Linked DNA regions of Homo sapiens: regions 2 and 3 are each linked to region 1. Evidence: fine-mapped expression QTL. A gene starts in region 1. Each other region holds a variant in brackets. All regions are shown on one strand. Distances are between the middles of the regions.

Region 1 (8,184 bases):
AGAATGATCACAGAGTCCGGCGCACCACCACTCTGCCTTATGCCTAGTGAGAGGGGCTTCACTGAGACTGCTGGGAGACCTGGACATGGGGCCTGGGAGTAATTTGGAAGGGAGCCCTGTGGACTGGGTGGGGGCCAAGCCCCTGGGGAAGCAAGTAGTGAGAGGCTGTGGCTGGAGCTGCCTGCTTGTTGCTTGGAGCACAGGACAAGAAGAGGTGTGTGCCAGCAAATAACCCATTCTGCTGGATTCTGTAGCATCAAAGGGTGTGTGAATGTTTCAGAAGCTGGTCTGAGTTACTTAGATCCAGTCCAAGAAAATGAAGCTGAGGGAGAGTTTGCCTGCATTGAGGTGCAGCTAGTGGTGAGGACGGGGACCAGGGACTCTCATGGAGCATCCACCTGAGGGAGGGTGAACTGGTGATGCTAGTGCTACAGTTTGGATCAATGTTGGAGGTGGGGCCTAATGGGAGGTGTTCTGGTCATAGGTTGGAACCCTCATGAATAGATTATTGCCCTCCTACAGAGGCAAGTGAGTTTCACTCCGTTAGTTCCCACGAGAGCTGGTTGTTAAAAAGAACCTTTGCCTCCCGTGTCTCTCTTGCTTCCTCTCTCTCCACATGATCTCTGCGTGTGATCTCACGCCAGCTCTGTTCGCCTTCTGCCACGAGTGGAAGCAGCCCGAGGCTTTCACTAGATGCCCAGTCTTCCAGCCAGCAGAATCGTGAACCAAATAAGCCCGTTTTCCTTATAAATTCCCCAGCCTCAGGTGTTCCTTTACAGCAACACACACCGACTAAGACAACTAGTGACCTCTCCTGCTCCGACGCCCGACGCCAAGCCCTCACGCTACTGTCCCAAACTTGGAGGCGCCGAGGAGCCTAGTGAAGGGGAGGAAAAGTAGAAGCATGAGGCAGGGGCATGGAGGAGAAACCCGCCAAGCTCCCCACGCGCCTTGTAGGCTTCCCATGTGGGCAGGTCTGGGATGGGGCAAGGGAGTGGTTTTAACTTCAAATGCCATCTGGAGTTTCAACTGTTTTGATAGTTAGATGTTGTAATTACTGAAATTGGATTTGTGTGAATAAAAGTTACCCAAGGGATTTTTATTATCTTGGATGGACCAGAAAAACCAAGAAACCTACCTTCAATTTCATCCAAGGTCAGAGGAGAACCCAACCCACCGACCAGGCTTGAAAAGGTAGTGGGAGAAAGAATTGTTTTCGGATTACACCCCACAAGGCTCCCGTGTTCAATAAAACTGTGACACAAACACTGGGAACAATTCTGGTGAATTTAGGAAGAAAGGAATTGATTGACGGGACACTGGGTGGCTCAGAGTCACTGGGTGGGCTGGAGAAACCACTTCAGCAATTGGGAGACCACAAAGGGAACCGCGGGCTCCAGAATGTGGAGATGATGCCACCACCTTCCTGATGCCCACGAGACTCTGTGTTGCTGTTGTCCCCTCTACCAGGATGCATTTTTCACTGTCCCCCTTCCTGAGTCACTTGTCCCTATGGCATGGTCTGGGTGTGATATGGTATGGCTCTTTGTCCCCACCCAAATCTCATCTCACATTGTAATCCCCGCATCAAGGGAGGAGCCTGGTGGGAGGTGATTGGATCGGGGGGCAGTTTCTCCCATGAGTCGTCACTCATGAGTTCTGGTTGTTTGATAAGTGTCTGGCACTTCCCCGCCGTGCTCTCTCTCTCTCTCCTGCCACATGTGAGACTAACACGTGCCTTGCTTCCCCTTCGCCTTCGGCCGCGATGGTAAGTTTCCAGAGGCCTCCCCAGCCACGTGGAACCGTGAGTCAATTAAACCTCTTTCCTTTCTAAATTACCCAGTCTCAGGTAGAATCTTCATTGCAGTGTGAACATGGACTAATACAGAGAGGAAACATCTGATTGGCTGAGCCTGGTCACATGCTTGACTCCAGCCCCAAGGGGCACTGGGAAAAACAGATTCAGCTTAACAACAGGGATATGTCCTGAGAAATGCATTGTCAGGCAGTTTCATTGTGTGAACATCGTAGGGTGCACTTACACAAACCCGCATGGCATAGCCTACTGCACACCTGGGCTATACATGTTAGCCTACATGGCATAGCCTACTGCACACCTGGGCTATACGGGTTATCCTGTTGCTCCTAGGCCACAAGCCTGTGCAGCATGTTTCTGTACTGAATACTGTAGGCAATCGCAACACAATGGTGTATCTAAACATAGAAAAATATCGTTCAAAATATGGTAGGAAAAATAAAAATATGGTACACCTGTGTAAGGCGCTTACCATGAATGGAGCTTGCAGGACTGGAGGTTGCTCTGGGTGAGTCAGTGAGTGGTTGGTGAGTGAATGGGAAGGCCTGGGACATTACCGACCACTGCTGTAGACTTTGTAAACGCTGTACATTTAGGCTACACCACATTTACGGAAGATTTTTTCTTTCCTCAATAGTAATGTAACCTTAGCTTACTGTACCTTTTTTTTCCTTTATAAACTTTTCAATTTTTAAAAACCTTTGGACTTTTCTATAATAATACTTAGCATAAAACACCAACACATAGAGCTTCACAAAGTATTTTCTTTGTACCCTTAGTCTTTTGTTCTTTTTTTTTTTTTTTGAGGCAGAGTCTCCCTCTTGTCACCCAAGCTGGAGTGCAATGGTGTGTCTCGGCTCACTGCAACATCCGCCTCCTGGGTTCAAGCTATTCTCCTCCCTCAGCCCCCCAAGTAGCTGGGATTACAGGTGCGCACCACCACGCCCAGCTAATTTTTGTGTTTTTAGTAGAGACGGGGCTTCACCATGTCGGCCAGGCTGATCTCGAATTTCTGACCTCAGGTGATCCGCCTGCCTCGGCCTCCCAAAGTGCTGGGATTACACCACGCCCAGTCCCCCTTTTTTTCTATTAAAAATTTTTTTTTTAACTTTTAAACTTTTTAGTTAAAAACTAGACACTAACACACACATGAGCCTAGGCCTACATAGGGTCAGGACCATCAGTATCACCATCTCCACCTCCACATCCTGTCCCACTGGAAGGACTTCAGAGGCAATGCATGCATGGAGCTGTCACCTCCTATGATGACAATGCCTTCTTCTGGAAACCTCCTGAAGGATCTGCTGAGTCTGTTTACAGTTAACTTTTTTTTTAATAACTAAAAAGAGTACACTCTTATTAGCAATTAAAAACACAGTGTAGTAAATACGTAAACCAGCAACATAGTTGTTTATTATTATTAAGTATTAAGTACTACACATAATTGTATGGGCTATACTTTTATATGACTGGCAGTGCGGTAGGTTTGTTTACAGCAGCATCAACACAAACACATGAGTGATGTGTTGCACTCTGACCTTACAATGGCTGTGACGTCACTAGGCAATAGGAATTTTTCAGCTCCATTGTAATTTTACGGGACCACTGTGGTATGTGCAGTCATTGTTGCCTGAAACGTCGTTATGTGGTGCATGGCTGCATAATAGTAGGTGGCTGGTGTCTCCCATCAAAACTGTTTTGGAGGGGCAAATCCTGAATACAGGAACGTGATTCAGATGATTGGCCCCTGGTGGGGAAGGGAGGGCAAAAATTAATATCTTTGAAAAGGGCAAACTGAAGTGATGACCGAGTTTACCTAGAAAATATCAAGATTACACATTCTGCCACTAGACTAAGGGAAGGTTTGAAAACTAGATTATTACACAAAACACACTATTATAGAAAAATAAAGATACCAATAAAGATACTTTGGACACCTGAGTTTGTGGCTATGAAATTCATACTCACCCCAGAGATAACGCGAGACACGAACAAAAGTAATCAATGAAAAACTGCTGGCATACTGACTGCTTGAACACTGTGGGCACTCGCTCAGTGTGGGACAAGCGTGCTGGCTAAAGTCCCTCCCCTTCCCTCCCTCCCCTCCCTGTCCTCCCCACCTCCCCCTGCCTCCCACCCCCACCCCCCACCCCATTACCTCACTGCTGCCAGCCTTCCCTTTCCCATCAGTCCTCCGTTAGGCGCAGAGCCCTGGCTCCTGCGGGGCCAGGCTGGACGTGGCTTCCAGTGACAGGGCCCTTTGTCTCACAGGTGGGAGGCTGGCGTGCGACCTTCATCGGCTCCCACGTCTCTGCCTCCGTGCTCTGGCAGCTGGAGTGGGTGCAGCATGCAGCAAGGATACGGAGATGCCATGGTGGGCCACCGTGACTGCCGACCCTTCTAGGACTGCACCCCCGTCAGTCCTGGCTGCCCCAGGCCCTAGACTCAAAGCCTCTCTTCCAGTCCCCACAGGGAACAGGGCCCCAGGAGGAGAGCAGGCTGCCCCCGTGCCCCGGGCCCTCAGAGGGTGAATTTGGACCTTTCCTGTTGTATTTTGCCCACTCTCTGACATTCCTCTTCCCCACCTTCAAAGCTCAAATGGTTCCCCAGGAAGCCTGCACTAGTCACTCTGATCTCTCCCTCCTCTGAACCCTGTGCTGCCAGGTCACATGCAAAACACGTGTCATTAAAGCTGGAAAAGACCTTCAGAATGACTTGGTCCAAACTCCCCATTTTACAGAAGGGCAAGTTGGAGCCCAGAGATGATGTTAGCCCACCACAGCTGTACAGATGCACCAGGGGACAATGGCAGAGTCCAGATCCCCGGGACCTCGGGACACAGGACTCCCTCCTTACTTCGGGGACACTGCATGTGCTGCCTTGGGTGGTCTGCTGTGCCTCCCCATGAGGGCACGTCCCATGGAAATGGGCTCTTTTTCTTTCCCAGGCAGAGAGCTGGAGGTGCCCAGGGCCCCACACCTGACATGGCCAGGGTGGGCAGGGACCAGTCCATCATCATTCCCTAAGCAGTTATTGGAGCTCTGAGGTCCCTGATAAGTAACACTCCAGCACCAGTGGGTGGTAACTCCTTCAGGCAGAAGGCTGAGCACGGTTTCCATGGAGACCGCCCAGGCTCTGGTTTCCAAGACAACACTTGCACGAGGTTACAGAGCTTCCTATTTATGTCAACTTAACATTTCCAACTGCTCTATTCTTCTGGCCAAACCCGGGCCTAATGCAAGGCCTCCATTCTAGGATGGGTGACAGTCCTCGAGGGCTGGAGGGAAGTGGCTGAGACTCCGTGCAGTTAGGTGAAAGTGAGACATTGCAGCCAGCAGGGCCTCCTCAAGCCCAGGGGCAGGTGTACAGAGACCAATACATGCTCATGCTTATGAATTATAAAAAGGTGTAGAAAGAGACGTAGTCCTACAGCTTCCTGCCATCCCTGCTCTCCAGAGGGAACTGGTGTTACAAGGCTTTGAGTGCGCTTCCAGAAATAGCACATGCACAGCCATAGCGCTATCACTTAAAAAATTCACAAACGGGATAGAGATAAATATATATTCTTGCTCTTGCCACCTGCTTTACCCTAATTATAGATTTCGGAGAACTTTACACATCAGCACAAATAGATCTACCTCATTCTTTGTAATAGCAACAAAATACTGTACTTTTTTAAAATACCAAGTCTCCAACTAAAGGACATTTGTCTTTAGTTTCTTGCTATTATAACAATAAATATGCTTGTACATATACTTTTGCATATCCTATGGAGTACATCCATAGGATACATTCTGGGCCAAAAACATTGCATTTTAAAATTTGATTTTGTCAAACTAATTTACTCCCATTACAGGCCAATGTTACAAAAAACATATATCTAAAATTCCTAAACAAAATGTTAGCAAATGGAATCCAGTAGCATAGATATAAGAAAATACCTCATGACTAAATCAGTTAGCAATATTCGCCACATTAACAGATATGCAAACATATGAATAGATGCAGAAAAAACATTTGATAAAACAATTTAATATCAATCCTTGATTAAAAATAAAAACACTTTGAAAACTAAGAATAGAGAACTTCTTAAATCTCAAAGAGTATTCTTCTAATATTTACAGCTAAACTATATTCAAGGTGAATTTCCTTTTAAATCAAGAACAAAACAAGATTTGTGGCTATCACCATGGTGCCAGAGCTCCTACCCAGTAAGATAGCACAAGAAAAATAAATAAAAGTTTTAATTATTTGAATGGAAGAAACAAAATTTACTCATAATCAGTTACCAGAATTGCTTGTCTACAAAGCACAAGGCTGGGCACTGTAGCTCCCGCTTGTAATCCCAGCACTTTGGGAGGCTGAGGCAGGTGGATCACTTGAGGTCAGGAGTTCGAGACCAGCCTGGCCAACATGGCAAAACCCCGTCTGTACTAAAAAGACAAAAATTAGCCAGGTGTAGTGGCATGGGCCTGTAATTCCAGCTACTCGGGAGGCTGAAGCAGGAGAATCGCTTGAACCCTAGAGGCGGAGGTTGCAGTGAGCCTAGATTGTACCATTGTACTCCAGCCTGGGTGATAGAGTGAGACTCTGTCTCAAAAAAAAAAAAAAAAAAAAAAATTTCCTCAGAGAACTTTGTGGAATAAGAAAGACAGCCCGGCAAGTTTGCTGGATCAATACTCAAAAATAAATTATACTTCTACACATTGGCAACAAAGGTATAATTATTAAACATCATAACAACAAATATAAGGGACATAGGAATCAATGTAATGAAAGATTTGTAAGACCCCTACTGAGGAAAGTATAAAACTATGTTGGAAGACATTAACAATGCAGATTTTAAAAATACCATGTTCATGGGTGAGAGCACTCAATATCCTGATTTCAATTCTCCCCAAGTGGATCTATAGATTTCATATAAGTCCATTAAGAACCTCAACAGAAGGCCAGGCGCGGTGGCTCACACCTGTAATCCCAGCACTTTGGGAGGCTGAGGTGGGCGGATCATGAGGGCATTGAGACCATCCTGGCTAACATGGTGAAACCCCATCCCTACTAAAAATACAAAAAATTAACTGAGCACGGTGGCAGGTGCCTGTAGTCTCAGCTACTTGGGAGGCTGACACAGGAGAATGGCGTGAACCTGGGAGGCGGAGCTTGCAGTGAGCAGAGATCACGCCACTGCACTCCAGCATGAGTGACAGAGCGAGACTCCGTCACAAAAAAAAAAAAAAAAAAAAAGAACCTCAACAGAATTTTCCATGAAACTTGGCAGTTGTTTCTAAAATGCATATGAACAAAAAGGGCCAAGAATAGGCATGGCACTGCTGGAGAGAATCAAGGTAGGAAACTTTTAGTACCAGGTAGCAAGACTTACTTTAAGTGTGGTTATGGTCCAACGGATAGACCTGATGAACAAAACAGAAAGCCCAGAAGTAGACCTTACATATAGAGAAACTTGATCCTTGCAGACATATACTGTAACTCAGTGGGGAAGGAAAAACAAAAACAGAACAAATCGTTATTCCTACCTCACATCAGACCAGGGATTAAATTCCTGGGGATTCAAAAATGTAAAATACAAAACTCTAAAATGAATAGAAGAAATTGTAGAATAATGCCTCTTCAACCTTAGGATGGGAAAGATTTCTGAAATGATATAAAAGGCCCTAACCACAAGGAAAAAGATGAATAAATTTGACTGCATTAAAATCAATAATTTCTGTTCATCAAAGTGACCACAAAGAAAGTGAGAAAGCTATGTACACGTGATGCTGTTTGTAAAAAAAAAAAAAAGGTGAGAAGGCAAGCCATGAACTAACTTGGGTAAGATACTTACCACCCATCAATGAAAATATGTAAAATATAAAATGTATAAATATATAAATAACTCCTACAAATTAGTAAGAAAACAAAGCAACCAATAGAAAAATAGGCCAAAGAAAGCAAGTCGGCATTTTACAGGAAAGGAAATTTGAGGGTTCAATAAACATGTGAAACCGGCCCCACTTTTCTAGTAATCGAGGAGACACAACTAAAACCATAATGAAATACCATTTTATTTCCTATCCATTGGCAAAAAACGTATTGCTAACATGAAGTGTTGACAAGGATGTGGAACGAGTAGAATGTCTATGCGGTGCAGCTGGAAGTGTAAATTGGTTCAATGTCTTACAAAAAACAATCTGCTAGAATTTTATGAGTTGAATATTTGCACACTGTGTGACCCAGTGCTGAGGTGCCCCAGGAACCCCATCAAAGAAATGTTCATGAAAGCGTTCTGATAGTAAAAAAAAAAAAAAAAAATCAGAAAAAAATCCAAAGAGCCATGGTTAGTCATTGTTTCATAGGTATTAAGCTGTATA
Region 2 (8,184 bases), 260 kb after region 1:
GTGTCTGAATATATCGTGCTACAAAGGCCTTCTCTATGCCAAGAGTATAACTAAATTCATATGTTTTCCTCTTTTATGACTTAAGTTTTGCATTACATTAAAAAAATCTATCTTAAATTTATCCTGGAGGTAAGAACAATATCCCTGAGACCATTTATTGAGTCATGTATCCTACCCTACTAATTTAAAATGATACCTTCCTCTTATTCTTTATCCCATATGCACTTGGTGGCTATTTCTGGGCTTTCTGTTTTATTTCATAGATTGGTCTATTTTTGCTCTGATGACAAACTTTTAATTACTTGTGCTTTATAATGTGCTTTTATATATAGCAAGTCTAATCCTCTCATTTTTCTTCCTTTTCAAAAATTTTCTGAATAATTTAAATATTTGTTTAAAAATAATTATATAGGCTGGGTGTAGTGGCTCACACTTGTAATCTCAGCACTTTGGGAGGCCTAGGTGGGAAGATTGCTTGGGGCCAGGGGTTCAAGACCAGCCTGGGCAACATAGTAAGACCCTGTCTCTACCAAAAATTAAAAAATTAGCTGGCTGTGCCTGGTGGTTCACGTCTGTAATCCCAGAACTTTAGGAGGCCGAGGTGGGTGGATCACCTGAGGTCAGGAGCTCAAGACCAGCCTGGCCAACAGGGTGAAACCCCATCCCTACTAAAAATACAAAAAAATCAGCTGGGCGTGGTGGCGTGTGCCTGTAATCCCAGCTACTCGGGAGCCTGAGGCAGGAGAATCGCTTGAACCTGGGAGGTGGAGGTTTCAGTGAGCTGAGATCACACCACTGTACTTCAGCCTGGGCGACAGAGCAAGACTTAGTCTTAAAAAAAAAAAAATTAGCTGGGTGTGGTGTCATGTGCCTGTAGTCCCTGCTACTTGAAAGGCTGAGGTGAGAGGATTGCTTGAGCTCAGGAGGTCAAGGCTGCAGTGAGCCATGATTGTGCCACTGCGCTCAATGTGGGCAGCAGAGTGAGACTCTGTCTCAAATAATAATAATAACAACAATAATAAAATAACAATGTAATACATCAAATATATAAAAATGTATAGAGAAAAATATAATGAACAGCCACTTAAAAAAATAAACATTAATGGCTGGGTGCGGTGGCTCACGCCTGTAATCCCAGCACTTCGGGAGGCTGAGGTGGGTGGATCACCTGAGGCCAGGAGTTCGAGACCAGCCTGACCAATATGGTGAAATCCCGTCTCTACTAAAAATACAAAAATTAGCTGGATATCATGGCGTGTGCCTGTAGTCCCAGCTACTTGGGAAGCTGAGACAGGAGAATTGCTCGAGCCCAGGAGGCGGAGGTTACAGTGAGCCGAGGTCGTGCCATTGCACTTCAGCCTGGGCGACAGAGCAAGACTCCATCTCAAAAAAAAAAAAAGAATTACTAATACAACTGAGGCTTCCTAGACCACATCTCCTGCCGCTTCTTTCAGTGGCAACAATATTTCTGAATCTAGTGTTTAGCATTCTCATTGATTTGTTTATACTTTTAACTACTCTCTGTATTTATCCTTAAGACTATTAAATATATGCAGTACTTTCACTCTGTCAGGGTGGAATGGCTGTAGACACAGTCAAATTTTCAAATCTTTGGTGATATCCAGAGCCTCCAGCCATCAGAGGCGGGATAGGCCCTCCCCCTGGCTTGGACCTTGGGCAGTTCCCCACCAGAGGCTGTGGAGGTCTCCAACATCCGGCAACATCCTTCCCAAGTGCCTGGCTCAACCCTTCTGTGCCTGGGAGTTTTCTCAGATGCCATGGGGGCTTGCAGGACTGCAAGCTGGAGAAAGAGAAACTCCCAACAGTTATGGCCCCCGGAACAACCACCAACCAGGGAAGGATGGGAGAGAGCACAAAGAGGCTCAGCAGCCTGCACCCCCCGCCCCCCACCGCCACAGGTGGGTTCTAGATGCTTACCCAGAGGGTTCCCGGTGGGAGGAACCCCACGTGTCCACCCCCTCACAAATGGGCCGTCTGATGGCTTTTCTCCTACTCCCATCATATGTGGGTCCTGAATTTGTCTTTCACATAAGTGCCTGGCTCCCAAGCCCTTGCTCAGGCCTGTCTGGGGAGCGGGGAAACTGAACTAGGCCAGCCTTAGTCTCCCACTCCTCCTAACGCTCTTACAATGAAGCAGGTCTTCAATGAATCCAGAGCGGGTCACAGAAGTACAGGGAGGGGGCCTTGTAGATCATTTGGATGACTTTGGTGTTGACTTTGAGCAAGGTGGGAGCTGTTAGAGGATTTTTTTTTTAATGCCTTAATAGACTTTTTATTTTAAAATTTAATTTATTAATTTATTTAAGACAGAGTCTCACTCTGACACCCAGGCTGGAGTGCAGTGGTGCGATCTTGGCTAACTGCAACCTCCACCTCCTTGGTTCAAGTGATTCTCATGCTTCAGTCTTCCTAGTAGCTGGGATTACAGGCACATGCAACCACGCCCAGCTAATTTTTGTATTTTTAGTAGAGACAGGGTCTCATGATGTTGGCCAGCCTGGTCTTGAACTCCTGACCTCAAATGATCCACTTGACTCGGTCTCCCAAAGTGCTGGGATTACAGGCATGAGCCACCACACCGGGCCAAATAAACTTTAGTTTTTAGAGCAGTTTTAGGTTCACAGAAAAATTGAGCAGAATGTACAGAGATATTTCATATACCCCATGGCCTCACACATGTACAACCTCCCCCACTGTCAATATCCTCCACTAGGGGGTATATTTGTTAGAAGTGACGAACCTACAATGATAATCATAATCACCTAGAGTCCATAGTTTTAAATTAGGGTTTACTCTTGGTGTACATTTTATGGGCTTAGACAAATGTACGATAACATGTATCCACTATATAGTATCATACAGACTAGTTTCACTGTCCTGCAAATCCTCTGGGCCCCAACTCTTTATCTCTCTCTCCTGTCTAAACTTTGGTAAGCATTAATCTTTTTGTTTGTTTGTTTTTGTTTTTTGAGACTGAGTCTTGCTCTATTGCCCAGGCCGGAGCAGAGTGGCACGATCTCGGCTCACTGCAACCTCCGCCTCCCGAGTTCAAGCAATTCTCCTACCTCAGCCTCCTGAGTAGCTGGGATTACAGGCACCCAACACCACCCTAGTTACTTTTTGTGTTTTTAGTAGAGATGGGGTTTCACCATGTTGACCAGGCTGGTCTTAAGCTCCTGACCTCAGGTGATCCACCTGCCTCAGACTCCCAAAGTGCTGGGATTACAGGCGTGAGCCACCGTGCCCGGCCACTGTTGATATTTTCACTGTCTCCATGTGTTGCCTTTTTCAGAATGTCATATAGTTGGAATCATGCAGTACATGGCCTTTTCAGATTGGCTTCTTTCGCTTGGTGATATGCATTTAAGTTTCCTCCTTGTCTTTTCATGGCTTGACAGTTTGTTTTTAAGCTCTGAATAGTATTTTAGTGTCTGGATGTACCACAGTTTATTTACCCATTTACCTACTGAAGGACATCTTGTTTGCTTCCAAGTTTTGGCAGTTATGAATAAAGCTGCTATAAATATTGGTGTGCAGACTTTTGTGTAGACATAAGTCTTCAACTCCTTTGGGTAAATACCAAGGAGCATGATTGCTAGATTTTATGTTAAGAGTAAGTTTAGTTTTGTGTAAAAGACTATGTTTAGTATGTTTAGAAACCACCAAACTGTCTTCCAAGGCAATAGTACTATTTTGCATTTCCACGAGTAATGAATGAGAGTTCCTATTGCTCCACTCCCTTGCCTGCATTTGGTGTTGTCAGTGTTCTGGATTTGGGTTATTCTAATAGCTGTATAAAGGTGTCTCATGGTTTTAATTTGCATTTTCCTGATGACATATGATGTGAGCCCATTTTTGTATACTTATTTGCCACCTCTTCTTTGGTGAGGTGTCTGCTAAAGTCTTTGGCTCATTTTTCAATTGGGTTCTATATAAAATATATAAATTTTGAGCCAGGGACAGTGGCTCATGCCTGTAATCCCAGCACTTTGATAGGCCGAGGCGGGTAGATCACCTGAGGTCATGAGTTCAAGATCAGCCTGGCCAACATGGTGAAACCCCGTCTCTACTAAAAATAAAAAAAAATTAGTCAGGTGTGGTGGCACGCACCTGTAGTCCCAGCTACATGGGAGGCTGAGGCACGAGAATTGCTTAAGCCCAGGAGGCAGAGGTTGCAGTGAGCCAAGATTGCGCCATTGCACTCCAGCCTGGGCAAAAAGAGCAAAACTCCATTTCAAAAAAAAAAAAATATATATATATATATATGTGTGTGTATATATACGTATATATATGTATATATGTGTATATATGTGTATATGTGTATATATGTGTATATATGTATATATGTGTATATGTGTATATATGTGTATATGTGTATATATGTATATATGTGTATATATGTGCATATATATGTGAATATATGTATATATGTGTATATATATGTATATATGTATATATGTGTGTGTATATATGTATATATATGTACATATATATATGTGTGTATGTGTGTGTGTATATATATATATATATAAAGTTTGGAAACAGTCCTTTATCAGATCTGTCTTTTGCAAATATTTTCTCCCAGTCTGTGGCTTCTGTTTTTATTCTCTTGACAGTGTTTTTCACAGAGCAGAAACTTTTAATTTTAGTGAAATCCAGCTTATCAATTATTTCTTTTATGAATTGTGCCTTTTGTGATATATCTAAAAAAATAATTGCCAAACCCTAGGTCATCTAGATTTTCTCCTATCTTCTAGGAGTGTCTTAGTTCACTTTCTGTTGCTCATAACTGGATAACTAAAACTGGGAAATGTATAAAGAAAAGGAATGTATTTCTTACAGTTATAGAGGCTGAGAAGTCATAACCTGAAGGGTTGCATCTGGTGAGGGCCTTCTTGCTGTGGGGACTCTCCATAGAGTCCCAAGGTGGTGCACAGCATCACATGGTGAGGGGCCTGAATGTGCTAGA[T/A]CAAGTCTCTCCTCTCCTTTTAAAGCCACCAGTCTCATTCTCATAGTAACACATTAATCCATTAACCCTTTAATCCATTAATCCATGAATGGATTAATTCATTCATGAGAGCAGAACCTTCATGACACAATCACCTCTTAAAGGCCCCAATACTGCCACATTGGGGATTCAGTTTCAACAGGAATTTTGGAGGGTGCAAACACCTAAATCATAGGAAGAAGTTTTACAGTGTTCCGTTTTCCGTTTAGGGCTGTGATCTATTTCAAGCTAATTTTTGTGAAGGCTGTAAGATCTGTGTCTGGATTCATTTTTTGTAAGTGGATTGTATTATTCTGTTCTCACACTGCTATGAGGAAATACCTGAGACTGGATAATTGATAAAGGAAAGAGGTTTCATTGACTCATAGTTTCTCATTGCTGGGGAAGCCTCAGGAAACTTATAATCATGGTGGAAGGCAAAGGAGAAGCAGACACTTTTTTCACAGGGCAGCAAGATGGAGTGAGTGCGAGCAGGAGAAATGCCAGAGGCTTATAAAACCATCAGATCTTGTGAGACTCACTCATTATCAGGAGAACAGCATGGAGGAAACCTCCCCCGTCATTTGATTACCTCCACCTGCTCCCACCCTTGACACATGGGGATTATTACAATTCAAGGTGAGATCTGGGTGGGCACACAGAGCCAGACTATATCATGGATATACCATTGTTCCAGCACCATTTGTTAAAAAGACTATCTTTGCCTCACTGTGTTGCCATTGGAGGATTTGAAGCAAAGGAGTGATGAGATACAAATCACACTTTAAAGGATCACTCTGGCTCCAGGTGGAGATGTTAAGTAAGCAGTGGATGTTCAGGTGAGCGGTCTGGCCAGCTGACGTGGGTTTGAGACTCATCAGCACGGAGCTGGAACCTACAGCTGTGAGGCTGGATGAGGTCTCTGAAAAAGAAGTATAGTCAGGAAAGGGAAGAGGTCCAAAAAGTGAGGCCGGGACACCTCCGCATTTAGAGGTCAGGGGTTTAGAGAAGAACCAGCAAAAGAGACTGAAGAAAAAAAAAGCCCAGCTGGTGAGATGGGAGGAATTCAGGAGGGGTGACGTCCTGGAAGCCAAATGCAAACAATATGTGAGGAGGAGGGAGTGGCTGGTTCTGTCAAGTGCTGCCAAGAGCTTCAGTCAGATAAAGGATGAAAGTCAACCACAGGACTCAGCAATATGAAGTTTGCTCGTGACCTTGACAAGAGTGGTATTGGTGAGTGGTGGGAGCAAGCAGGGAGAGGAGGAATTGGAGGAAATAAACAGAGGCCTCTTTTGGGAGCAGCTGGCTATAAAGGCAAGGAGAGAAAAGAGGGAGGGGCTGGGGAAGGTTTTTTTTTTGAGACGGAGTCTTGCTCTGTCGCCAGGCTGGAGTGCAGTGGAGTGCATCTCGGCTCACTGCAGGTTCCGCCTCCCGGGTTCAAGCGATTCTCCTGCTTCAGCCTCCTGAGTAGCTGGGACTATAGGCATGCGCCACCACGCCCAGCTAATTTTTGTATTTTTAGTAGAGACGAGGTTTCACCATGTTGGCCAGGATAGTCTTGAGCTCTTGACCTCGTGATCTGCCCGCCTTGGCCTCCCAAAGTGCTGGGATTACAGGCGTGAGCCACCTCACCCGGCCGGAAGGTGTTTTTACGATGGGAGACTATAACAGCATGCTACAAAGAGCTGCCTGCTCTACAGATAACCCCAAACTGCTGGGATGATTTTCTTTTAAAAAATTCATTTCACTGCTCAAGTGTTGCTTACCTCTGTTATTTATTTATTTATTTATTGAGATGGAGTCTCACTCTGTTGCCCAGGGTGGAGTGCAGTGGCGCAGTCTTGGCTCACTGCAACCTCTGCCTCCCAGGTTCAAACTATTCTCCTACCTAAGCCTCCTGAGTAGCGGAGATTTCAGGTGTGTGCCACCACGCCCAGATAATGTTTTTTGTATTTTTAGTAGAGACGGGGTTTTACCATGTTGGCCAAGCTGGTCTTGAACTCCTGATCTTAGGTGATCTGCCTGCCTTGGCCTCCCAGAGTGCTGGGATTACAGGTGTGAGCCACTGCACCCATTCTATCTATCTATCTATCTATCTATCTATCTATCTATCTATCTATCTATCTATCTATCTATCTATCTCACTCTGTCACTCAGGCTGGAGTGCAGTGGCACAATCATAGCTCACTGCAGCCTTGAATTCCTGGGCTTAAGTGATACTCTTACCTTAGCCTCCCGAGTAGCTGGAACTACAGGTACACACTACCATGCCTGGCTAATTGAAAAACATTTTTTTTTTTTTTTATAGAGACGGGGTCTCGCTATGTTACCCAGGCTGGTCTCAAATTCCTGGACTGAAGCGATCCTCCCACCTTGGCCTCCCCAAGTGCTGAGATTACAGGCATGAGCCACTGCATCCAGGCAAGTGTTACCTCCTTAAAGAGATCTTCCCAACCTCTGCAGCCTATCAGTCACCCCTTTTTCTTGTCTTCCTAGCCCTATTCACCATTCGAAAATAGCTTGTGAATCAATCAATCAATCAATCAATCAATTCTTTGATCTTTCCCTTCTATAACATATGCTCTTCTAGGGTTATAACCTTGTCTGTTTTGCTCATTGCTCTTTTCTCAGTATCCAAAAGAGTGGCTGGCCAGGGGTTAGTGGCAAACCAACTCTCTGAGGGGAAAAAAGTTCTGATTTGTAGCATTTGCCAATTACTATGGTGCCAATATTCCTACCATGGCTGACTTCAAACTACCAACATGACATGACTAAACGTGGAGTTGGGAAGGAATGTGCACAATTGGTTTTCCTGCACTGGTGCACATTGGCTGGACTGTACTTAGCATGTAGGTGGCACTCAGTTAATATTGGTTGAATAAAAGGGTGAATGAATAATCATTAGCTTGAGCCATTATTCCACTAATAGTAGGCCCCTGGATATTCTTGGAAGGTTTATATTTTTCCTGTTGCTCCTTAGTCCTCTATCTTTTCCTCCCCTGGGAAGTTCTGCCTGTCTCCCACACTGCCTTGTTGAAAACTACCCATAATGCTGCATGTACCAAACTTATACTGAAGGTTCGAGGCAGTGGAGGGGAGTTCTGTCGGGTCCTGAGCCAGGGAGCATCTTCCCAGTTGTCTCTGCATAGAGTGCCAGGTGGCTGGCTGGGCTCCTT
Region 3 (8,184 bases), 45 kb before region 1:
GTTGTGTGTGTGTGTTGACATCTGGATGGGTGCGCACAGTTCTGGCTGTGAGCCTGTGAAAGCCTGAGGGAAGACCACAACACACAGCACAATTGTGTGAGACCCTAGGACTCAATCAACTGGGCAAAACCCCTTTTACAGCCAAAGCAAGTCACTCACTCAAGGCCCCCTAGGAGCTTCAGAAGGAAAGACTTCCTGGTAATAAACAGGTCCATGGAGCCCGTCAGCCTTCGCTTCCTGGGCCCCTCATCCAGACAGGAGGCTGCGCTGGGGCTGGGAGTGGCTGCCGGGCTGGGACCACACACTCTAGTTCCTAAGACGTGCCTGCCTCTGTGTAACCTGAGGCCCCTTTTCTGATGTGTTCCAGGCAGCCTGAACTAAAACACCGCCGCTTTGTCTGACCACAGCGCCAGGAGCCTTCTCTTGGAAATGTGGTCACGATGGTGCTGAGGCTGCGGGTCCTGCCACCATCTCTGAGGGAGAGGAAAAGTGCCCCCCACCCCAGGCGTTTCCTCTGAGACCCGTGTGTCTCTGGCATGAAGGGGCCTGTGTGTCACTTGTCCAGGTGGTAGGAAGGAGGTAACCCATGTGTGTCCTGGCAGCCAGAGAGGCTCTGGGCACCCTGGGCGCAGTCAGCAGAATGTAGGGGTCCTGGGTGGGGGTGGGGGAAGCCCAACCCAACAGGACAATGCCCTTCCTTGGTGGGTGGAGTCAGGGTGGGAAACCCCGACTGAAGAGAGGGCTTAATCCCCAAAGCTCCCTTGCCGACCTGCAGTGACGGCTCTTCACTCTTAGGGACTATCTGGGTTTAACACTGAAGGTCCAGAGTCCCCCCAGGAGTCCCATCCATTCTGGGCAAACCAGAACAGATGGTCATCCTCACCCCACCCCAGATAGCAAACAGGGCCACCCCGAGGCGTCCGGATGCTAATCTTCCCCAGGGGAGGCTGACTCCTGCCCAGAGGTTACCAGGAGTCAGCATGGAGTGGGCCCCGGGGAGGGAGGCGGCCGGGCTCTAAGCATTTTGCTAAGCACTTGGGCTGGGTCAGGCTGGCTGTCCCTGGTTCTTCTGACCTGTGTCCTCCTTCCCCTGGGACCAAGAGCTCAGGGTTGGGGCTTTCAGTGGATACTTGTGCTGTTCACAGAGGTGGTCATCTCACATTTGGTCCTGGGAACTAACCCCCATCCCTGAGGGGCAGAAAGAGCAGCTGTGCTGGGGTCGGAGAGAGGCCGGGGACCAGAAACCTGGAATCAGTACTCGGTGCTCGTTCCACAGCTTTTGGTGAGAGAGGTGCAGAGAGGTGCTGGCCCTGATGCAGACCTAGGTTTTGTGATTCCAGGGCCAGGGCTGGGTTAGAAATCACCATATTCTGTCAGCCTTTTGTGTTGTAGGGGCAGGTGGAGAAACAGCCAGTGCAGGGAGGGGTCTCTCCAAATAAGCGGCCCATATACCTAGGCCAGTGCCCCTGGGGGACAGTCCAGTCTATTAGCACTGGAAAGGAGGGTTGAAAAGGTGGGCAAGGAAAGCACCCTGAGCCCAGGTGACAATAGAGGCGAGGAGAGGGAGGCAGGAAGTGACCACAGCCTGACCCAGCACCTCTGGGGTGGTCACCGGAAGCTTTGGGGTGACTGCAGATGTGGCCTCAGAAACTGAAGTCAAGAACTTCAGAGGCTGAGCTCTTGGGGAAGACCTGGTAATGCCTCTCCTAGCGGACACATCCCCTGCATCCTGCATCTCCCACCCCCACAGCAGAGCTTCATCCCGCTGCTGTCACTGCCCCCACCCAGGCAGCCTTTGCCCTGCCAAGGGAGCCCCCGCCCTGCCTCCTGGAGACGCTGACTTCCAGGAGTGGGGAATGCTGCCGGCGCAGGGGCTGCTGCTCCTGGATAAGAGGCAAGCCCTGTAAGGAGAGAGGCCCTGAGTCCCCTGAGTCCAGCCACCACCTCTATGGCCGCTCTGAAAGCCTAAGGGGACTGAGGGTGGACATGAAAGGAGGTTGCTCTAGTTTCTTTGGCCTGTGGACCAACCTGAGGAGGGACAGCCACCCACTGCCACAGGCCAGTCCCCAGGTGGCTGAGAGCTCCCTTGGAGATGGGGGCTTCCTGGAGGGCCTGCCAGGCTGCCCAGCAGCTGCACACCATGGGCTGCCCCGTGTGTTCAGTAGGTTCCTGACTTCCCCTAGCAGGGACATCAGGGTCCCAGGAGACGGTTTGCAGGAAGGGCCAACGGAGGGCAGGTGGAGGATGCGGTGGACGGATGGGAGGGAGATGGGGCAGTGGAGCAGTCTGCCCAGGTGGCTGGAGGCCAGAGAAAGGCCAGAAGGGAAGTCAAGAGCACAGGAAGAGTGAAGAGCAGAGAGGCAGGCCAGGCAGAGAGGGCGGAGGGAAGGGGGGAGCTGGGCGGGGCAGGGGACTTCAGGGGCTTGGCTAGGCCCACAGGAGGCGACAGGGCACAGGACCAGAAGGCAGTGATGGAGGGTAGCAGGGAAGGGGGAAGAGGCAGGAAGGGGCAGGGAAAGGAGTGGGCTGGAAGCAGCCGGGTGAAAGCAGACCCATTTTCCCTTCATCGTTGCCAAAGATCAGCGTGAGAGCACGATCCTGGGGCTCTGAAGTCAGAGTTCAGTCCGGCTTCTGTTCCCTTAGGATTTGTCCTTGTGACCTCACATGTAGAGAATTAGAGAGAGCGAGCGCATGCAAGAGAGAGAGAGAGAGAGCAGCAGTCCTGCCTGTAGCACAGCTACAGGGATGTGCAGACTGAGGCCCTGATGGAGGCAGTCCCAGGCCGAGCCTGGGCTAGAACAGGGTGTGCCTTGTCACAGGAAGCGAGGAGGTGGTGCAAGAGTGGGAGAGAGGCCTGGTTTAGGATGACGGCCAGACACGAAGCAAGAGATTGGGGCTCATGCAGGCACAGCTGGGCAGCTGGAAGAGGCAGGACCTGGCCAGTTTCGAGCCCCACGTGGAGACTGTCCTTGTAATGAACATGTCCTTCTGTTCGGAGCTTTATGTACCTTTATCATATAAACATTCACAGCCATGCTGTCTTCATTTAGAAGAGGTGTAGATCCAACTATTTTAATGAACACTGAAGACTTTCCTTCCATAGTAGCTTCCCCTTCATGTAACGTTATGTGCATTATGTAACAGAATGCAATGTACCTTTACAGAAATCTCTGTAATTTCAAAATGATATAATGCACAAATTAAGACTTCTAGTCACCTTAGATGATAGAAACAATATCCATCCAGCCGGTGGTAATTTTCTGCCTTCAGCACCAATTATGTAGGGAATGAGTTTTTAATCTTGTGAATTCCTCTAACATGTTTCCTGCCCTCTGGATGCCTCCCACAAACAGCTGCAACCACCTGACGGGCAGGCGCCCAGAGAAGGTCGGCGGGCTGGTGGCGTGGAGGTGTTTCTCTAAGCAGCAGAGTACCTTTGTCACTTGGTTGGGTGCAGACCGCGGCTGGTTTGTAGGACAAGGAGCTGGAGCTTCACGCCTCAGAACCGAGATTTTTTTCTGTGAAGTTGGAGGCCAGGCTGTCTGGGGATGGTGAGGAGCTGGAGGTGAGGCCTTGAGGTGTGGAGTGGCCTCGACGGGACCGGGCTGGGGTGGGGCTGCCCTACCACCAGGGAAGGGGTGAGGGGTGCTGGTGCCCTGAGACTGCCATTTGGATGGTTCCCTTTGGCTCCAGGAGCATTGTCCATGGGCTAAAGGGGCTGGGGTGGAGTGGGCAAGCAGGCGAATGGACTGGGCCAGGGGTGGCCCGGGCAGTGGAGTGGGGCACCACTCAGGGTGTGGAAGGAAGGGGAGCAGAGGGGCCCCGCATGCTCTCATGGGGATGGGGCTAATGGGCAGGGGTGAGAGCAGCAGGAGGTCGCACCGTGAGGCCAGACTGTGAAGTGGGGCCCTCGTGGGTGCAGCGGTCGGGGCCTGTGGCAGCAGCAGGTGCACTGTGTTCCTGCTCAGCGTCTTAACAAGTGGGCTTATCAGGCGAGTTGCCAAAACCTCTCAATGCCTCCATTTCCACCCTGTAAAGTGGGAGTGCCTGTGGGTCCTGCCTCATGGGGTTGGTGAGGGTTCAGCAAGGTGGGACAGGTAGAAATCGGCCTCTCTAGGTGCCATCTCCTAGGCCCAATCCCAGCTCTGCATCAAGCTCGTGGTGCACATTTGGGCACAGGGCTCCAGCCCTCTGTGCTTCAATTTCTTCCTCTGTCAACAAGGCTGTTGATCGTTTGCACCTCCCAGGGTGTTTGGAGAATGAACAGACTTAATTTGTAAAGTGTACTGCCCTCGGCGTGGTCCTCAGGACAGGCAGGGTCAGTGTTGGAGGGAGCTGTCACCATTGGCAATGACGTCTCCTTGAAGAGTCGGGAGGACTTGGGGTGGAGATGAAGACTGAGCCAGGTACTGGAGTGTGGTGTGCCCTGGAAGATATTTGATGGCATTAAAGAGCAGAGGTGGTAGCTCTGCATGTGGGGTAAGGCTCTCAGGACAAAGCGTTTTGCAGGAGAATAGGGTGTGAGTGCTGGCACAGTTCCCGGGGGAGTGGCGGGTAGGTAGGGCAGGTGGGGACCTCCCCATAGCCTTCACCTGTCAGCCCCTCAGTATTGGAGAAGATTTTTTTACCTTCCACCCCAATATATACTTTTTAAAAATCAGAATTAAATAAAAGACTTTCAGGAAGGAAATGAATGTCCTAGTTACTCAAACTACAGAAGGGTGAAGATAGGTTCATTATTAAAGTGCTACAGGATAATTCATGGAGACGAACGACACAATTAACAATTTCCATGCCGCAAAACAAAGATAAAACTGAGCCAGGCGCAGTGGCTTAAGCCTGTAATTCCAACATTTTGGGAGGCTGAGGTGGGTGGATTGCTTGAGCTCAGGACTTGGAGACCAG[C/G]CTGGGAAACATGGCAAAACCTCTCAATGCCTTTGTATTTTGTACCAAAAGTACAAAAATTAGCCAGGCGTGGTGGCACGTGTCTGCAGTCCTGGGAAGTTGAGAGGCTGAGGTGGGAGGATCGCTTTAGCCCAGGAAACGAAGGTTGCAGTGAGCTGAGATCATGCCACTGCACCCCAGCCTAAGTGAGACTCTGTCTAAAAAAAAAAAAAAGAAAGAAAGAAAAGAAAAACAAAACAAAAAACCCAAAGATAAAAATGTCTGTGTGTAGGGGAGGTGGGAAGGGGTGAAGTAGGGAGAAAAGACTCAACACGTAAGAAGAATAGGAATTCAATAGCTAAAGTGGAAAACAGAATATTAGGCTCCTGATGGGCATGTGGGCAAAGGAAATAGTACACTTTATGCAACAGGAAACATAAAAGAAAATAAGTATTTCAAAAGGGTCCACCATCTGCTCACACTCCTATCCCCGTGTCCCTGAGAAATAAACAAGTGTAGCTCAGTAGCTGTGACCTGGTGGCCTGGACAGGGAGCTGCTGGGAGGCCAGAGGGGGTACTCAGAGGTGAGCAGAATCCCCTCATTCCTTGACTCCTGGCCCCAAGGCCCAGGTGGGAGGCGGGGGGGTCCTGGCTGCCCGGCGGGAGTGGAGGGAATGCTGGGAAGCTGTTGCCAGGGTTTAGCCCAGGACTCTGCTCCCTTGAGCGCCAAACCTCAGGAGGGCCTCAGGAGGACCTGGATGAGACAGAGCCAGAGGTGTTCACTTGGAAGCATTTGTTTAATGTTCACAAGACATTCAGTGGCTCCATGTGCCAGGGGAGCCATGGGACAGGGTGGGCTTCCAGAATTCTCTCCTCCCCTGCATTTGGCAGCAGGGGAAACTTGGGACGTACAGAGACCTGTGCTCTCTGTAAACTTCGTAGTAAAGGGCCTCCTCTGGATGCCGTGGGCTTTCGGTGATAAGACAACCATTGCATTTGAAGACCACCTTTGTCCAACTTCTGCACATTCTGGGGGCTCCAAGCCCCATCAGGGCCATCAACAGCCATGGGCAGGATGACTGCAGGGAGAAGCTTGGTGGCTCTAAAAGAATTGGCTGGATCATGACAAGAACAGAAGGCACAGATATCTGAGCATCTGCAACCTTCTCCTGTAACCTTGATGTTACATTTCCAGTGAGTGACAGAGGGGCACGTGGGGTGACATGGGAGGGGAAGGCTGCATTCTGGACAGTTGCTGCCCCCTTGCGTGTTTTACTCCCTTCTGCCTTGACATTAAGCATCACTGACCTCAGCCACCATGGGCCCACTTTCAAGGAGACATCTTCAATTGCTAAGGGGGATTATCAGGGCCCCGAGTTGGGGGGCTTGGGGGCACGCACCTTCCTGTCTTTGTGAGCACCTAGGGGGCAGGGTGTCAGTCCTCAGGGACTTGGCAAAGGCTCCAGGAACGGGCTTCGTGTGGTATAGCACCCAGCTGACCGTGCAGGGGAGTCATCCGGGCTCAATGTTTAAGTGGGGCTTGGTGGCCGGATGCAGTGGTTCACACCAGTAATCCCAGCACTTTGGGAGGCCGAGGTGGGGGATCGCTTGAGTCCAGGAGTCCGAGACCAGCCTGGGCAACATGGCAAAACCCCATCTCTATTTTTACAAAAAATAAAATAAAATAAAGAAGTGGGGCTTGGGAACAGAAGTGTTCCCGGCAGAATGGGAGGGGAGAGGCCAGATGGGGAGCCATAGGATGGGGCCTGGGGCAAGTCCCTGCCTAGCCCAGCTCTTGGAGCTCAACCCTTTGAGTCTGTCTCCAGGCCGCACCTGGAGGGTTGGAGCAGAGGGTGGGGGCAGGTGCTGCTCATCTTCCTCTCTTTGCCTCTTCTTCCTGAGTTCCCCTGCCTTCCTCTCTCTGTTGGGGCTTCCTCTGATTTTTAGGACCCCTTTTCCTTGGATCATGAGGGTCTCATTATCAATGTTCCTCCTTTTTTTTTCTTTTCCTTCAAATAGACCCAGCAGGGGAGACAAAGGCAGGCATAAATCAACGAGGAATGGGGGCCTCAGTCACTGCTTGAGTACCAGGCACTTCCTGGGTACACTTACCCCTGTTACCATGCCGACTCCTAAAACAACGTTTTCTGAGACAGGTACTGTCATCTGTCTTCACCACCACTGCCTGGTCCCTAGGAGATGATCCACAAACATTTTTTGATTGAATGGATGTGTAACTCCAATTTGCGGCTGGGGAAATGGGCTCAGAGAGGTTAGGCAACCAGCCCAAGCTGACAGAGCTGCTTTGTGGGGAGTGGCGGCCAGAGACCTGCTGAGGCTATCTTCAGAGTCCGGCTGCCTCAGATGCCCTGGATCCTTCTTTCAGACACTCTGACGCCCCCACTCCTGCCCTCATTCCTTCTTGTTGCTGCTGGTGCCCTCATCCCAACCCAACCCCTGCTGCCCCAGTGGGTCTGTCACATGCTGCCCCTGTGCCAAGCGTGTGTTCCCTGGGACCCCGGGGCGGCCCGTGCCCCTGGTTCCTGCCTGGCCAGCTTCCAGCCTCGGCTCCTGCCATTCCCCCCTTACCCTGGTGCAGAGGGTGCCCGGGCCCTCACCAACCCCGTGCCCCTCCTGCCTGTGCCTGCACCTGGGCTGCCCTCCTCCAGCATCCTCCTCCCTCCCCGTGTCTCTTAGGGTTCAGCTCTTGCCCCTGCCCCTGTTCCCTGACCAGCTCTCTGGGGCAGGCTTGGGAGCACTTCTTGCACAGCTCTGGGCCAAGTGGTCACCCTGCAAACCCCCTGGTGGGCAGGTTTCCCCCCTTGGAGGGAAAGGATGCCCCACGAGGGCAGGGCCAGGCCTCTGGCTGCTGAAGGAGCGAATTTCACCAGCGTCAGGGGAGGATGTGGTGAGCGCCCAGCTATCCTGGACCCGCTCTTTGATAAACACAGTCAGATTCACTTGTTCCTTGCCCTAGAAGAAGCTGGTTCCTGAAGCTCCGAAGCTGCTCCACTGGTGAAGTCGAAGGTGTGTGCCCCCAAACCCCCCAACTCGGGGCTCCCAGCCTGGAAGACAGGCAGGGACCTGCCCAGGCTCCCAAAACCTCCAAGTGATTCTGGATGGTGAGAGGGTGGGCAGGACTAGGGGGAGAAGTTTCAGGAGGCTTAAGGGAAATTTTCTGAGAAAGGTCTTCCTATTTATGACTCCCCAGGCCTGTGGCAAGGGGAGGCGAAAAGCTCGAGGGACAGGCCTGAGCCTTAGGACGGGGCCTTGGGCGAGTCCCTGCCTAGCCTTGCTCTT

Direction of the effects. Alleles are on the strand shown, and positions count from the first base shown. SD is a standard deviation of normalised expression in the study named. Not every link is listed here.
As copies of C replace G in region 3, the expression in prefrontal cortex of the gene that starts at base 4,398 in region 1 goes up (moderate effect, 0.40 SD a copy in CommonMind).

What was found. PIP is the estimated chance that this variant, and not a neighbour inherited with it, causes the effect. A credible set is the group of variants that fine-mapping cannot tell apart.
Region 2: its variant is the best candidate, but not a certain one, in a credible set for the expression of GCSIR in pituitary (GTEx, PIP 0.52).
Region 3: its variant is the best candidate, but not a certain one, in a credible set for the expression of GCSIR in prefrontal cortex (CommonMind, PIP 0.87).

Annotation. Positions count from the first base shown.
Region 1 is chr2:230,882,760-230,890,943 of GRCh38, reverse strand. GCSIR (GPR55 cis regulatory suppressor of immune response RNA) reads right to left here and starts at 4,398. Exons shown (of 4, transcript NR_038238.1): 1 at 3,975-4,398. RefSeq lists an enhancer at 4,966-5,035.
Region 2 is chr2:230,626,202-230,634,385 of GRCh38, reverse strand. No RefSeq gene overlaps it. Among named protein-coding and RNA genes, the nearest start is that of LINC01907, 70 kb to the left of the region's middle. The variant T/A (reference allele first, on the strand shown) is at 4,991.
Region 3 is chr2:230,927,398-230,935,581 of GRCh38, reverse strand. It overlaps a transcript of GPR55 not described here. Among named protein-coding and RNA genes, the nearest start is that of GPR55, 6.2 kb to the right of the region's middle. RefSeq lists a silencer at 6,046-6,175. The variant C/G (reference allele first, on the strand shown) is at 4,906.